Homo sapiens: one gene and its partner. The protein of the gene in region 2 purifies or fractionates together with the protein of the main gene of each other region. This does not show direct contact. Each region holds a gene or a part of one and is shown on either strand. Other genes may lie near its edges. The genes, in order: GLDC and CREG2.

Region 1 (3,406 bases), on a different chromosome or scaffold from region 2:
GGTAGGAGGAGAAGAGAGTGTATTGCTCTGACCCCTCCTCTGTCCGTGTCTCTGTCTCAGATGTCTCCACACTCCCTGACCTGCGTTACATCTTCCCACTGGGACCGGCCTTATTCCAGAGAGGTGGCAGCATTCCCACTCGTAAGTTCTCTGAATCTGAATGTGCCAGCTGGGAAGGCATGGGCCAGCTCCTATCCTGACGGGTGTACGCTCTTAGCCTCATGATTACAGAAACCATATGTGGGGCACCTTGTGAAATAAGGGTCTTGAAGAGGAATGAGGAGCAAAGAAATTGGCTTTCAGAGGCGAGGTCACACAGTATCAACCACAGATCTGGGAACCCATAGGGAACAGAGTGGGGGAAAACTGAATACGAGTCCTGCCCAGTGGACCAATGTGTTTCCCTCCACTGTGGGACAGGGAGATGGCGCCCAGTGCAACCTTCCTTTCCTTTCTGATTCTTATATGGAGGAGAAGGTTCTGTGTAGTCTGTTTGAGTGAGGTAGGGAGAAGGCTAAAAATGTGCCAAATTATGCTATGTGCTGTTTATGGATCTATGCAGTAATAGTATAAAAACATAATGAGAATGGTAAATCCTGTATTCATTGGAGAGGAGAGGAAACAAAATGATGCTTTTTTTTTCTTTCTTTTTTTTTTTTTTTTTTTGAGACGGAGTCTCGCTCTGTTGCCCAGGCTGGAGTGCAGTGGCATGATCCTGGGTTCACGCCATTCTCCTACCTCAGCCTCCCGCTGGGACTACAGGCGCCTGCCACCATGCCCGGGTAATTTTTTGTATTTTTAGTAGAGACGGGGTTTCACTGTGTTAGCCAGGAAGGTCTTGATCTCCTGAACTCGTGATCCGCCCACCCCGGCCTCCCAAAGTGCTGGGATTACAGGCGTGAGCCATCACGCCCAGCTGATGCTTTTTTTTTAATCGTTCAAATTTTTATTTTAATACACAGTATGAGAAATTAACTTTTTTTTTTTTTTGAGATAGAGTTTTACTCTTGTTGTCCAGGCTGGAGTGCAATGGCACCATCTCGGCTCACCACAACCTCTGCCTCCCAGGTTAAAGCGATTCTCCTACCTTAGCCTCCCAAGTAACTGGGATTACAGGCATGTGCCACCATGCCTGGCTAATTTTGCATTTTTAGTAGAGATGGGGTTTCTCCATGTCGATCAGGCTGGTCTCGAACCTCTGACCTCAGCTGATCTGCCTGCCTTGGCCTCCCAAAGTTCTGGGATTAAAGGCACGAGCCACTGCGCCCAGCCGAGAAATTAACTTTTAAATCAACTGAATTGTATGGAAAATGACATAGCAAATAAATTAGACCTATGTTAAAAGAGAAGGTCAGCTAAATATCCAAACTTAAGGATATAATGGGCAGATAAACATAGATTCCAAAGTCTTCTTTAAGCAGTTGAAGTCTTTCAAACACAACTTTGCTATAAACTGGTCCAGATATCAACAGCACATAGGGATGCTTAACAGGGGTGGTGATCAGGGACACGCCTCCTGGGAAATGCCTCTTTTTTTTAAATGGTAATGTAGGGTTGGATTTTAGGTTCTCAGAATATTTGCTGGGCTGATGGTGTCTTAGGTTGTGGGACTAGCATTGCCACCTCCTTTGCCCTAAGAGAAACCTCCCAGAACATCTCACAGCATTTCCATCTTTTGTCCTTTGCAGCCCTTCGTGAAACCAGAGAACAAATTCTGGCCAACGATTGCCCGGATTGATGACATATATGGAGATCAGCACCTGGTTTGTACCTGCCCACCCATGGAAGTTTATGAGTCTCCATTTTCTGAACAAAAGAGGGCGTCTTCTTAGTCCTCTGTCCCTAAGTTTAAAGGACTGATTTGATGCCTCTCCCCAGAGCATTTGATAAGCAAGAAAGATTTCATCTCCCACCCCAGCCTCAAGTAGGAGTTTTATATACTGTGTATATCTCTGTAATCTCTGTCAAGGTAAATGTAAATACAGTAGCTGGAGGGAGTCGAAGCTGATGGTTGGAAGACGGATTTGCTTTGGTATTCTGCTTCCACATGTGCCAGTTGCCTGGATTGGGAGCCATTTTGTGTTTTGCGTAGAAAGTTTTAGGAACTTTAACTTTTAATGTGGCAAGTTTGCAGATGTCATAGAGGCTATCCTGGAGACTTAATAGACATTTTTTTGTTCCAAAAGAGTCCATGTGGACTGTGCCATCTGTGGGAAATCCCAGGGCAAATGTTTACATTTTGTATACCCTGAAGAACTCTTTTTCCTCTAATATGCCTAATCTGTAATCACATTTCTGAGTGTTCTCCTCTTTTTCTGTGTGAGGTTTTTTTTTTTTTAATCTGCATTTATTAGTATTCTAATAAAAGCATCTTGATCGGAAGAATGCCTTTCTCTTGGTGTACTTTATAGTTTTACCACCGTTACAACCTAGATTCAGTGGGAGCTGAAGGGCAATGAGAACACCCAACCCAATAGCCATTGTTACATCATCAGTTTTGCCTTCGACTGGCTGAAGAAACAGTTGTCTTGGTCAACAGTGAAAACCACTTTGACCCTTTTTGTTGGAACTGAGTTAGAGTGCATGTAACTGTACTCCAGCTATGGAAGGTCAATCAAATAGCAATTTATCTTTTCTCATTTAAGTCCAGAGGTAATAAGCCAAGCACTGGTGCTCCTTCAGTTTTCCCGCTCTGCCCTCCTTTGCATAAAATTTTCATCCGCATGGTCTCAAGAAGGCTGTTGCATTTCCAGGCGTCTGACATACCCATTCTAGTTAGGATTAAAAGGGAAGAGCAAAGGCCAGGCGCGGTGGCTCATGCCTGTAATCCCAGCACTTTGGGAGGCTGAGGCGGGAGGATCACCTGAGGTCAGGAGTTGGAGACCAGCCTGGCCAACATGGTGAAACCCCATCTCTACTAAAAATACAAAAAATTAGCCGGGCATGGTGGTGCATACCTGTAGTCCCAGCTACTTGGGAGGCTGAGGTGGGAGAATTGCTTGAACCTGGGAGGCAGAGGTTGCAGTGAGCTGAGATTGCACCACTGCACTCCAGCCTGGGCAACAGAGTGAGACCTTGTCTCAAAAAAAAAAAAAAAAGAAGAGCAAAAGGCAGCTTCCACCCAAATCTGCTTCTTTTGAAATGTTTTCGAATATGTTCCACTCAGTAACTGCTGCAGCTGGCCAAAATTGGTTCAAATCTCACTCCCAGCTACAAGAAAGTGTGGGGAAGTCTGTTACCTGGGCATGTGACTGCCCCAAACAAAATCAGGAGTATGTTAATTTTTAAAAAGGTGGGGAGAATGGGTTTTAGGTTGGCAACTAGCATGCCTGCCACAAATGACTTTGCCTTAGAAGTAGCAAATGCTCTAATCATGACTACTTGGTTTCTTGCATGGCTGCTTCCT
Region 2 (3,500 bases):
CTGAGTATGAGCTGCCTTCTGAAGCTGAGAGGAGCAGGTGGCCTTGACCTGTCGTTATCATCGTAAGACATGGGCGCTTTCTTGAATCTCCCCGCTCCTGTGGGAGATGCTGTGAAGCTCTGAAGCACGTGACGACGATCTCTGCCTTTGCTGGAGACCTCTTCAGGCCCGGCGACAGGCAGGAGGGGCACCTTGCTGGTACCTTGCCGGGCTGTCCTTCGAAGCTCTACCCAGGTGTTTGGGTAGCTGCGGACACTTCTACCAGATACCTCGCTATATTCCAGTGGCCCTAGGAACCCCTTGCTTGGCTTGTTTATTCGGGGCTCTTTTTCAATGCCAGCCACATGGCTTTGACTTGTTAAGTCCCTGTGTTCAGTATTGCCAAGATTCTGAAGGTGAAACCTAAAATGTAAAGCTCCACTTGGAATGCGAACCTCACACAGGTGAGTCACATCTGGGCTTACGCCGATTATGGGAAGTCGTAGACCCTAGGGTGACAAAAGCCCCATTGCTTGGTAAGCTTTGCATTGAAGTGTGATGCTTACTAAGGCCAAACTTGGTTTTGTAGGCATTTATTTACATCATATTTCAATACTTCAGAAGCTTAAACAGTGTCAGGGGTATAGCAGTTCTGAGAAACAGTTTTACAAGAAGACATAAACTAAGGGGTACCCATGAGTGCGTCTCATCCTTCCTCTCCCAGGCCAGAGTAACAGGTATGCTGAGATGCTCTTGCCCTTGGCCCCGGGGTGCTCACCTCCAGCCTCGAGCTGCCTCACCCAGTTAGCCAGGGGGCTGCACAGGTGTTTGCGTGTCCTACATGTGGCCTGTCATGAAGAAGGTCCGCATACGTGGCTCTAGGCTGTGCAGGCAAGTCTTCCCAAGGGACTGAAGGAAGTCACCCTGAAATCCTCTCCCCATGAGGACCTCTCCTAAGTCAGATTTCTCACTGCTCCTCGCTCCAGCTCCTGCTGCCATTTGCCTGGGGGTTGCCAGTTGACAAATCCTCCCCCAGCTGGAGTGCTGCCGCAGCTTTGTCCCAAGTATATATTCTGTTGCCTGTCCCCAGAGCGGCTGTGCTCTGGGTTCTGGGAGCCACATGCTCCAGCACGACTGCTTTCAGGATACCTGAATGAGGAAAGCCTGGGAAGCTTAGAAAGGTATCCTGGATTGGAAGGCCGAGGCAGGTGGATCACCTGAGGTCAGGAGTTTGAGACCAGCCTGGTCAACATGGCAAAACCCTGTCTCTACTAAAAATACAAAAATTAGCCAGGCGTGGTGGTGGACACCTGTAATCCCAGCTACTTGGGAGGCTGAGGCAGGGAGAATTGCTTGAACCTGGGAGGCAGAGGTTCACGGTTGCAGTGAACCGAGATTGCGCCACTGCACTCCAGTCTGGGAAACAAGAGCGAAACTCTATCTCGAAAAAAAAAAAAAAAGAGTAAGAAAAGAAAAGAAAGGTATCCTGGAAATGTACTTCTAGTAACAGTAAGCTTGACTGACCAAGAACAGGGAGAATATTCCATGAGAAAGGAAATGTTTCTTTTCCTGGCTTCTTGCTGTAACCTGGTGGGGAACAGGGTCAGCTGAAGTGTCTCCATGTGGTCTGTCGTGGCTGAGGGGAAACAATGGCTTATCCAGGATGCATCTTGCATTGTATAGTTGCTTTGATTAGCCTCTGTAAGAACTAATACATTGTTTGGTTATTATGTTTTCCGTGCTGTGCATAAAGAATAATAGAATTTCACAGATGGGATGAGGCCTGTTGATTTTCTAAAGCATCACTACATTTAGGTGGAGTGACTAAGGTCCTGGAGGTTAAAGGGCTCACCCCAGGCCATCCTGGGCATTTGCTGCTCCTCTGGGAAGGACGAGGGGATCTCACATGCAGCTCCCACACCAGCTCCATGCAGACATTTCCCGGGGAGGATGCGAGTTCAGGCTTTGCATTTTGAATTCAGATAAAGGGGCCTGCATCAATGTTCTGTTAGTGCTTAAATGTCTTTAGAAGTGTTTTCTTTCAGAGAGCTTTTGAAAAAGTGAATTAAAAAATGCTGGCTCCTTATTGCACATATCTCTGGGGACAGGATAGAAATAAATTGGAAAGACAATATATAGACTCTGTGTTGCACGCCTCCGTGCTGGGGAGATCAACTACTGGCTCTTCCTTTACCAACCCTCACTCCCACCCTCGCCCTTTTCCATAACAACAGGAGCTGTCTGGACTCCTGCCAGTGTTGCACAAAGCATTTTACACCTATTTCCAGCACTTGCAATAACCCTCGGAGGCAAAGATTATTATTCCCATTTTACAGATGAAGAAACTGAGGCTCCCAAAGATCAACTAACTTGCTACAAAGCACACTGCTTGGTGAGTGGTGGAATTCTAATTTATCTGATTTCAAGGGTGAACATCAATGTGCATCTCAGAGTTCTGTTAAAGTCATGTGACCCAGAGAGAAACCCACCCCCAACTCTCTGTCAAAAACTTCCCAGGACCCGTGTGAGTGAGGGCAAACCGTCGTCTACCTGCAGAACTCCCCTTCTGATTCTGGCAGCATCAGCGAGGCCATGGGGTTCTTCATCAGATCAGCCACCACGGGGTCCTTGGCTGTCATGTAGAAGAAAGGAATCCCAGTGCTATTGTTGAAGGGGCCATCACTGACGGGCAGGCAGTTCCCAAATGGCAGTCCTTGGATCTAACAAACACCAAAAAAGGCTTTTTCAGTGCAGAGCTGTGGCTCGACTTGATCTGGGAGCTTAGCTTGTGCCTCTGGCTAGGAAATACAACACCAGGGATGAGGGGGGATCATGGCATCACAGTGGCTCTGACAGGTAGTAAATCAAGGTGAGGTGGTCCCCAGTCTGCCCAATTCACTCCGTGGTGGCTCTAGAATTTCTCCACAGGAGATACTCAGCAGTGGCATCCTGTTTGGAAGGGGTGGTGAAAGGATTCTTCTTGAAGCTGCCTGTGCATGGCAGATATACTCACTTTGTTAAATTTCATGTTCTTTTGGGGAGGGACAATGACATTTATGGGAGGTGGTGCTAAGCCTTTTCCACAAGCTGCCTGTTACAGCCCCACCGCTTTAACTCCCAAGGTTAACTGCCTGTCCCAAGTTTTGAGCAACTTTAGGGAGGATGTTTAAGTCTTTAACGTCTTGCCTGCTCTCTGGACTTCAGGAACTTTCTATTATTGTTTCTTTTAGGGCTGCATCACTTTCTCATTTATTAGCTGCATTTTTTATTGTAATCAATAATATTTCATTGTACGACTCAGCAAGTTATGAGAAATTGATTTGTTACCCTTTTTGCATAAAGGAAGTCATAGAAACATGATATGCCAATTTTTCTTCATGATCACCCACTAGGGTGGGAGAAGGGTGGTGCCATAGTTTGGATATCCATCCCTCCAAATCTCATGTTAAATTCTGATCCCCGGTGTTGGAGGGGAGGCCAAGTGGGAAGGGTTTGGGTCATGGGGGTGGATCCCTCATGAA

Evidence for each region.
Region 1: the proteins of CREG2 (region 2) and GLDC purify together in Homo sapiens (affinity purification with mass spectrometry; one large-scale study listed by BioGRID and IntAct). This does not show direct contact.

What each region holds. Positions count from the first base shown.
Region 1 is NC_000009.12:6,531,443-6,534,848, reverse strand, and holds the end of GLDC (glycine dehydrogenase (decarboxylating), mitochondrial precursor), read left to right. Parts: intron 1-60; coding exon 61-141; intron 142-1,688; coding exon 1,689-1,832; 3' UTR 1,833-2,382; downstream 2,383-3,406. UniProt on the Homo sapiens protein: The glycine cleavage system catalyzes the degradation of glycine.
Region 2 is NC_000002.12:101,381,004-101,384,503, forward strand, and holds part of CREG2 (protein CREG2 precursor), read right to left. Parts: intron 2,700-3,500; coding exon 2,530-2,699; intron 2,078-2,529; coding exon of another isoform or gene 2,005-2,077; exon of another isoform or gene 1,688-2,004; coding exon of another isoform or gene 1,672-1,687; exon of another isoform or gene 557-1,671; intron 1-556.